Homo sapiens: one gene and its partner. The protein of the gene in region 2 purifies or fractionates together with the protein of the main gene of each other region. This does not show direct contact. Each region holds a gene or a part of one and is shown on either strand. Other genes may lie near its edges.

Evidence for each region. The genes of interacting proteins can lie anywhere in the genome.
Region 1: the proteins of RNF215 (region 2) and CAPN15 purify together in Homo sapiens (affinity purification with mass spectrometry; one large-scale study listed by BioGRID and IntAct). This does not show direct contact.

The regions. Positions count from the first base shown.
Region 1 is NC_000016.10:530,712-534,211, forward strand, and holds part of CAPN15 (calpain-15), read left to right. Parts: intron 1-3,234; 5' UTR 3,235-3,287; intron 3,288-3,500.
Region 2 is NC_000022.11:30,384,612-30,388,624, forward strand, and holds the start of RNF215 (RING finger protein 215 precursor), read right to left. Parts: upstream 2,801-4,013; 5' UTR 2,703-2,800; coding exon 2,418-2,702; intron 2,149-2,417; coding exon 2,005-2,148; intron 1,531-2,004; coding exon 1,459-1,530; intron 1,379-1,458; coding exon 1,293-1,378; intron 1-1,292.

The DNA.
Region 1 (3,500 bases), on a different chromosome or scaffold from region 2:
GGCCCACAGGGTGCACGGAATGGGGTCTGTGGGAGGATGGGGGCATCCTAGCCCAGGGCAGGGACCCCGTGGGCCCCCCAAGATGAGCTGCGTCAGGCTGTTGCTTTGCACACTCTGAGGGGCCTGCCTGAGTGCTGCATGGGAAGCCAGCAGTGTGGCCGCCCTCCCCAGAACTCATCCAGGGCACCAGGGTGGACCCATGAGTCCCGTCGGGTCATGGGCATCAGCCTCGCCATCCTGGCCTCCAGATACAACGATTTGTCAGATTCCCTGAGGTCAAAGGGAAGCTTCAAGGGTTGCCATCCCCGCCTCCCTGGCGGTCCTAGACGGGATGTCAGGAGGACGCAGGGCCATCGCTGCTTTTTAAATGTCACAGTGACTGCAGCGTCTGCTCCTCTGTGGAAGGAGCTTGCTCCGCTAATGAGGGAGTTCCTCCTCATGGCCTTCCCCTCACTTCTCTTCAAAAAGTTGCCCTTTATTTTAACATTTTTTAAGTTTTATTTTTTTGAGCCAGGGTCGTGCTCTGTTGCCCACGCTGGAGTGCAGTTGCAATCATAGCTCGCTGCAGCCTCAAACTCCTGGGCTCAAGTGATCTTCCTGCCTCAGCCTCCCAAATACTGGGACTACAGGTGGGCGCCACCACACCCAGCCTCTGCCCTTTGTAAGTGAAGTCCCCCAGGCAGGTTGAACCTCTTACACCTTCTGCCCCTGCCTGATCCCCACTCCCTACCCCCCACCTCCCTGTCCCCTGTAATGAGAAAGGCAATAAGTTTTGGAGCTTTCTGGAGTTCCTGCCCCTCCTGAAAAGGTGGCTGCAGAGAGGCTGGAGCTGATGGGGAAAGAGGTGCCACGAGGCCTCCTCTGGGTTAGGGCCACACGGCTCCCAAGGCCCCCGTCTCCTTCTCTGGGGTGACAGGTGCCCCCAGGGCCACACGGCTCCCAAGGCCTCCGTCTCCCTCTCTGGGGTGACAGGTGCCCCCAGGGCCACACGGCTCCCAAGGCCTCCGTCTCCTTCTCTGGGATGACAGGTGCCCAGGGCCACACGGCTCCCAAGGCCCCCGTCCCCTTCTCTGGGGTGACAGGTGCCCCCTGTGTCCCAGAGGCTTCTGCTTGGCCACCAGTGAGGTCACCGGGCTGCCCAGACCAGGGCTGCTTCTGCCACCACATGGCAAGCAGAGAAGTAGAGAAGTGCCAAAAACCACGAGTGCTTGTCTGGTCCTTTTTTCCTGTTAAAAATAGAAGTCGGGGCTGGGTGCGGTGGCTGACACCTGTAATCCCAGCCCTTTCAGAGGCCGAGGCAGGTGGGTTGCCTGAGGTCAGGAGTTCGAGACCAGCCTGACCAAAATGGCGAAACCCCATCTCTACTAAAAATAAAAAAATTAGCTGGGTGTGGTGGTGTGTGCCTGTAATCCCAGATACTCAGGAGGCTGAGACTGTAGAATTGCTTGAACCTGGGAGGCGGAGGTTGCAGTTAGCCGGGATGGCACCACTGCACTCCAGCCTAGGCGACAGAGCTATACTCCGTCTCAAAAAAAAAAAAAAGAAAAAAAAGTAGAATTCGGTTGGGCTCAGTGGCTCATGCGTGTAATCCTAGCACTTTGGAAGGCCAAGGTGGGTGAATCACATGAGGTCAGGAGGTAGAGACCAGCATGGCCAACGTGACGAAACCCCCATCTCTACTAAAAATACAAAAATTAGCTGGGCGTGGTGGTGTGTGCCTGTAATCCCAGATGTTTGGGAGGCTGAGACACTAGAATTGCTTGAACCCGGGAGGCAGAGGTTGCAGTGAGTCGAGATGGCACCACTGCACTCCAGCCTAGGTGACAGAGTGATACCCTGTCTCAAAAAAAAAAAAAAAGCCAGCCGCTGTGGCTCACGCCTGTAATCCCAGCACTTTGGGAGGTCAAGGCGGGTGGATCACCTGAGGTCAGGAGATTGAGACCATCCTGGCTAACACGGTGAAACTCCATCTCTGCTAAAAATACAAAAAAATTAGCCGGGCCTGGTGGCAGGCGCCTGTAGTCCCAGCTACTCGGGAGGCTGAGGCAGGAGAATGGCGTGAACCCAGGAGGTGGAGCTTGCAGTGAGCCGAGATCACACCACTGCACTCCAGCCTGGGCAACAGAGCGAGACTCTGTCAGAGAAAAAAAAAAAAAAAACAGGTGATGCCTGTGCCACTGGACACACCTGCACACCATCCTCATGCTGATCACAAAAGAGGGTGAGGGGCCGGGCATGGTGGCTCATGCCTGGAATCCCAGCACTGGGGGAGGCCGAGGCGGGTGGATCACCTGAGGTCTGGAGTTCGAGACCAGCCTGACCAACATGGTGAAACCTCGTCTTTACTAAAAATACAAAAATTAGCTGGGCACGGTGGCGGGCGCCTGTAATCCGAGCTACTTGGGAGGCTGAGGCAGGAGAATAGCTTGAACCTGGGAGGCGGAGGCTGCAGTGAGCTGAGATTGCACCACTGCACCCCAGCCTGGGTGACAGAGCGAGGCTCTATCTCAAAAAATAAAATAAAAAATTTAAAACCAACAAAAAAGAGGGTGATGGCTGAGTGAGGAGTCCATGGTGGGCCCTACACAGGGCCCAGGAAGGACAGGGCGGGAAGCGTGAGCATCCTGCCCACCGCAGTGGGTCCGCCATGGAGAGCATGACCTTAGAGAAGCAAAGCCGCCTGGCTCGAAGCAGTGGCCGCCCTGCTGACAGCTGTAGTGGCCGGGTGGCACTCGGGCTGGGGTCCGGGGGAGTCTAGGTGGCCACCTGGCTGTGTGCCTGTGCCTGCCCAAGCTGGGCACCTTTCCCTGGCAGTGCCTGGGAAGCTCGGCCGCCCTCCCTGGCTGGTGCTGCTCTGCAGCCCCGCTCATGGACTCTTGCCCACGGCCTGCTCCTTGTAGCAGGGTCGGGCCGTGGGAGGTCCGGACAGGATCTTGAATGGCCCTGTCTGCGGTCCTGGCTGGCCGGAGGTTGACCGCACTGGACAGGTCAAGGGCCTTAAACCAGGGTAGTGAGGAGCCTGCTGAGCCCCTGCTGCTCCCCGGGCTGCCTTTGGCGCTCGGACAGACACCCAAGGACAGAAGCTCGGACAGCTTCTAAGGCGAAGGGTCTCCCGGGGCTGATTTCCCGGGACTCTGGCTCCTGCAGAGAGGGCTGGAGGCGGGGCTCTGTGTTCCAGGGTCAGAGTCCTCCTGGTGGAAGCTGAGGTGCCTGATTAAATGCCTCCCTTTCTAGGCAGCAGCCCAGACGCGGCACAGAGAGGGCCTGGGAGCTTGCTGCAGCTTCAGGTGAGTTTGTTCCCAAGCCCTGCGGCTCGTTTATGGGTTTGCTTGCGCTGCAGAACTGTTTGTGGAGCAGCAGGGTTGGAGTGCCCACGGCTGGGGGGCCTCTCGGAGCCCTTGATTCACAGAACCCCTGGAGGCCGGCAGCCCTGCCTGCCCTGAAGAGCCTCGTTCTCCCAGCCGTTTGGGCCGTGGTCCTGTCGTGGGAGGCGACGGTGA
Region 2 (4,013 bases):
ACACTTTGCCCCAGGCCTTTTCCCTCTATTGGTTTTTCCAATTTTCACACCAGCCAGGCCAGGGAAGCCTGCAAGTCCATCTTCCTCCTTGCTGGGGCCAGTCCTCTCTGCCCACAGAGCCACTTCCTTGCTCCAAGCTCCAGGCTCTGGCACCTCCTTCCCATCCCCTCACCCATTTTTCAGCCTGGGACAGGACAGTCTTTCTTTTTTTTTTTTTTGAGACAGGGTCTCCCTTTGTCACCCAGACTGGAGTGCAGTGGCACAGTCACAGCTCACTGCAGCCTCTACCCCCGGGGCTCAAGTGATCTTCCCACTTCAGCCTCCTGATTAGCTGGGACTACAGGCATGTGCCACCATGCCCAGCTAATTTTTGTATTTTTTTGTAGAGACTGAGTCTTGCCATGTTGCCCAGGCTGGTCTCAAACTCCTGGACTCAAGTGATACTCCTTCTTTGGCTTACCAAAGTGCTGGGATTACAGGCATGAGCCACCATTCCCAGCCGAGAGGGCAGTCTTAAAGCTAACAGTTGGCTGGGTACGGTGGCTCACACCTGTAATCCCAGCACTTTGGGAGGCCGAGACGAGTAGATCACAAGGTCAGCAGATCGAGACCATCCTGGCTAACATGGTGAAACCCCGTCTCTACTAAAAATACAAAAAAATTAGCCGGGCATGGTGGTGGGCACCTGTAGTCCCAGCTACTTGGGAGGCTGAGGTGGGAGAATGGCATGAACCCGGGAGGCAGAGCTTGCAGAGAGCCGAGATCGCGCCACTGCACTCCAGCCTGGGTGACAGAGCGAAACTCCATCTCAAAAAAAAAAAAAAAAAAAAGTTAACAGTTAGGCCGGGCCCTGCCAGGCCCAGCCACAGTGGCAGCAGGGGCAGCAGCAGCAGCAGTGGCAACGGGGGCTCCTGCCTGTAATCCCAGCACTTTGGGAGGCCGAGGCAGGTGGAACTGAGGTCAGGTGTTCAAGACCAGCCTGGCCAACATGGTGAAACCCTGTCTCTACTAAAAATACAAAAAATTAGCTGGGTGTGGTGGCACATGACTGTGATCCTAGCTACTTGGGAGACTGAGGCAGGAGAATCACTTGAACCTGGAAGGCAGAGGTTCCAGTGAGCCGAGATTGCGCCACTGCACTCCAGCCTGGGCAACACGAGTGATACTCCATCTCAAAAAAAAAAAAAAAGGCTAACAGGTAAGGCCCTGGTCCCAAGCCCCCTCAGTCCATGGGAGAACCAGGGGCTCTCTGTACCCAGGGTCAGTCCTTTGAAGTCTAAATACCAACTCACTGCAGCAATGCATCCAACAGCTTGGTGACATTGGAGGAATAATGGAGGACGATCACTGGCCTGAGCAGAAGCTGGGATATGTCCAGCTGCAGGGAGACAAGGAGGTCAGCAGGCCTGGGTCCCCCTTTCCCCAGCTTGCTTACCCTCACGGCCTGGTCCGATTTACCTCTCGGACCACGTTGTGGTTCAGGATGAGAAGAAGCAGGGCAGAGGCACCCAGGAAGAGGGCCCGCCGCATCTGCAGAGGGATAGAAGGCGAGAGGCTAGCATATACCCTGCCTGCACACCTGTCTCACCACCTGCAGCCCTAGCTGCTCTTAGCTCCTGGCCCTGCAGTGAGCAAAACTCTGGACAGACTGCCATAAGCTCCTTGAGGTCAAAGGTGGAAACTGCTTTCTTCCTCCTGCCTCCCTTCCAGATGCGCTGTGCCTTCCCCGGTCCTATCAGGGCAGTCCCAGCAGTGGTCGTCAGCAGCAGCTCCCCCATCCCATACTCTCAGAGCCTGGTCAAGCTTCTCAACCTCTCTCTGGCCTCCTCTCACCTCCCTGCTTCGAAGCCATACTGACTCCATTCTTCAAACTGGGGTGCCCTGACCCACCAGGCCTAGGGCTTCTCTGCAAGCTCTTAAGGGCCCATCTAAGGAGGGCCTGGCTCTAGCAGATGCCTTGGAATCCTTTCCTCCAGCCCCCTCCCCCATAGACATCCCCTGCACCTGCTGGACCAGGGCCTTGGGATAGGCCTGCGGGCCACTGCCCTTATTCTCCTGGTGGAACTGGGCCGCCTGCTCCTTGCCCACGTATGCCACTGCAATCCAGCCTTCCACTGGTGCCTCCTGCTCGGCATCCACGATGTCCATCTGTGTGGCAAGGGGCCATGAGCAGAGGGAGGTAGGGTGTGGTGGGGGAGGGAGCCGGGGTCATCACAGTGGATGCCAAGGCCAGAGTTCCCAGAGCATCTGGCTCTCTGGTTTGGGAAGCCGGAATGCTGGGGGCCTGGGGAGCCTGGGGAGGGGCGCTGGACTCTCAAGGCTTGGTGGAGGATGAACGTCGGTTCAGGGTGCGGGGTCTCTAGGGAGGGTTGAGAGAGGGGTTTAGTGATGCGGCCAGATGGCTCAGCAGCGCTCACCAGCAGCAGACGACCGCCCAGCAGGGGCGCCGGGTCGGCTTCGGAGCCGATCCTGACGCCCTCCAGGACCAGAGCGTCCTGGCGCGGCAGTCTCACGTCCACCCGCACGGCGCGGGCTCCGCCCCGCCCCGCCCCGGCCGCCGGCTCGCTGCCGTCCGCCGCGGCCCCGGGCCCCGCCAGGCCCAGCCACAGCGGCAGCAGGGGCAGCAGCAGCAGCAGCGGAGACGGAGGCGGCGGCGGAGGCGGCGGCGGCGATCTCAGCGCGGGGCGAGCGGCGGGGCCCATGGCCGGACCCGGCGAGCTGGCCCAACAGTGGGGCCAGGGGTCCCGGGCGCGGGGGGGATCGGAGGGAGCGAGGCCGCTGCCGGACGGGGCGGGGCGCCGGGAGGGGCGGGGCCGCGGCCGGACGGGGCGGGGCACCAGGAGGAACGGAGTGGGCGCTTGGCGGCTCTCGCGCCCAGACTGGGCCGCGGGCGCCCCCTGGTGGCCGCGGAGAGCTCAGGTGCCCGCGGCTGAGGGAGCTGGAGAGGGGCAAAACCGGGGTCGCAGCGGGAAGGCGGAAAGTCAGAGAGAGGAGGTGCTTCGGCAGCGGACGCGTCAGCGGGGCAGACAGGAAAATAGTTGGAAAGGGCGACCTGGGGGAGCAGAGACACGATCAGAGCCTGAGAAGGGCAGGAGCAAGGGATGTCTAAGGGGCCTGGTGGCAGGCCCTTGTTCTGCGGCAGCCCCGTGGACCCACGGGGTGGCCAGGGCCAAGTCACATCCCTCTCTTCCCCGGTCCTCCCTGTCTCGACCCCACTAAACAGCAGGAGGCAGAGAACCAGAGACTGGCGTGGGAAGCCGACAGGGGAGATAGAGGGGCAGGGGAAAGGGGCTGGGGGGCAAGGCAAAACGAAGCAGGCAGGGACTCAGTGCCTCAGTGGGACCGAGAGGCTGGGTCACTTCCCTCATCTGTGAAATGGGCACCATAGGCCGGGCGCGGTGGCTCACGCCTGTAATCCCAGCACTTTGGGAGGCCGAGGCGGGCGGATCACCTGAGGTCGGGAGTTCGAGACCCGCCTGACCAACATGGAGAAACCCCGTCTCTACTAAAAATACAAAATTAGCCGGGCGTGGTGGCGCATGCCTGTAATTCCAGCTACTCAGGAGGCTGAGGCAGGAGAATCGCTTGAACCCGGGAGGCGGAGGTTGCGGCGAGCCGAGATCGCGCCATTGGAATCCAGCCTGGGCGACAAGAGTGAAACTCCGTCTCTAAATAAATAAATAAATAAATAAGCACCATGTACAATCAACACTGCCTCACCCCCAGCAAATAACTCAAATGTCTACTGGAATGTGGAAGTTCCACTACTGTTCTAAAACTTGTCCGTTTCTCCAAGGGTTGGGGCTGCTGGGAGCTGGCTCAGTCTGAAACCTGAGCCTTTAAAAATTGTATGGTGGGCAGGGCGCGGTGGGTCACGCCTGTAATCCCAGCACTTTGGGAGGCTGAGGCAGGCGGATCATGAGGTTAGCAGATCGAAACCATCGTGGCTAACAAGGTGAAACCCCGTCTCTACTAAAAATGCAAAAAAATAGCCGGGCATGTTGGGAGGCGCC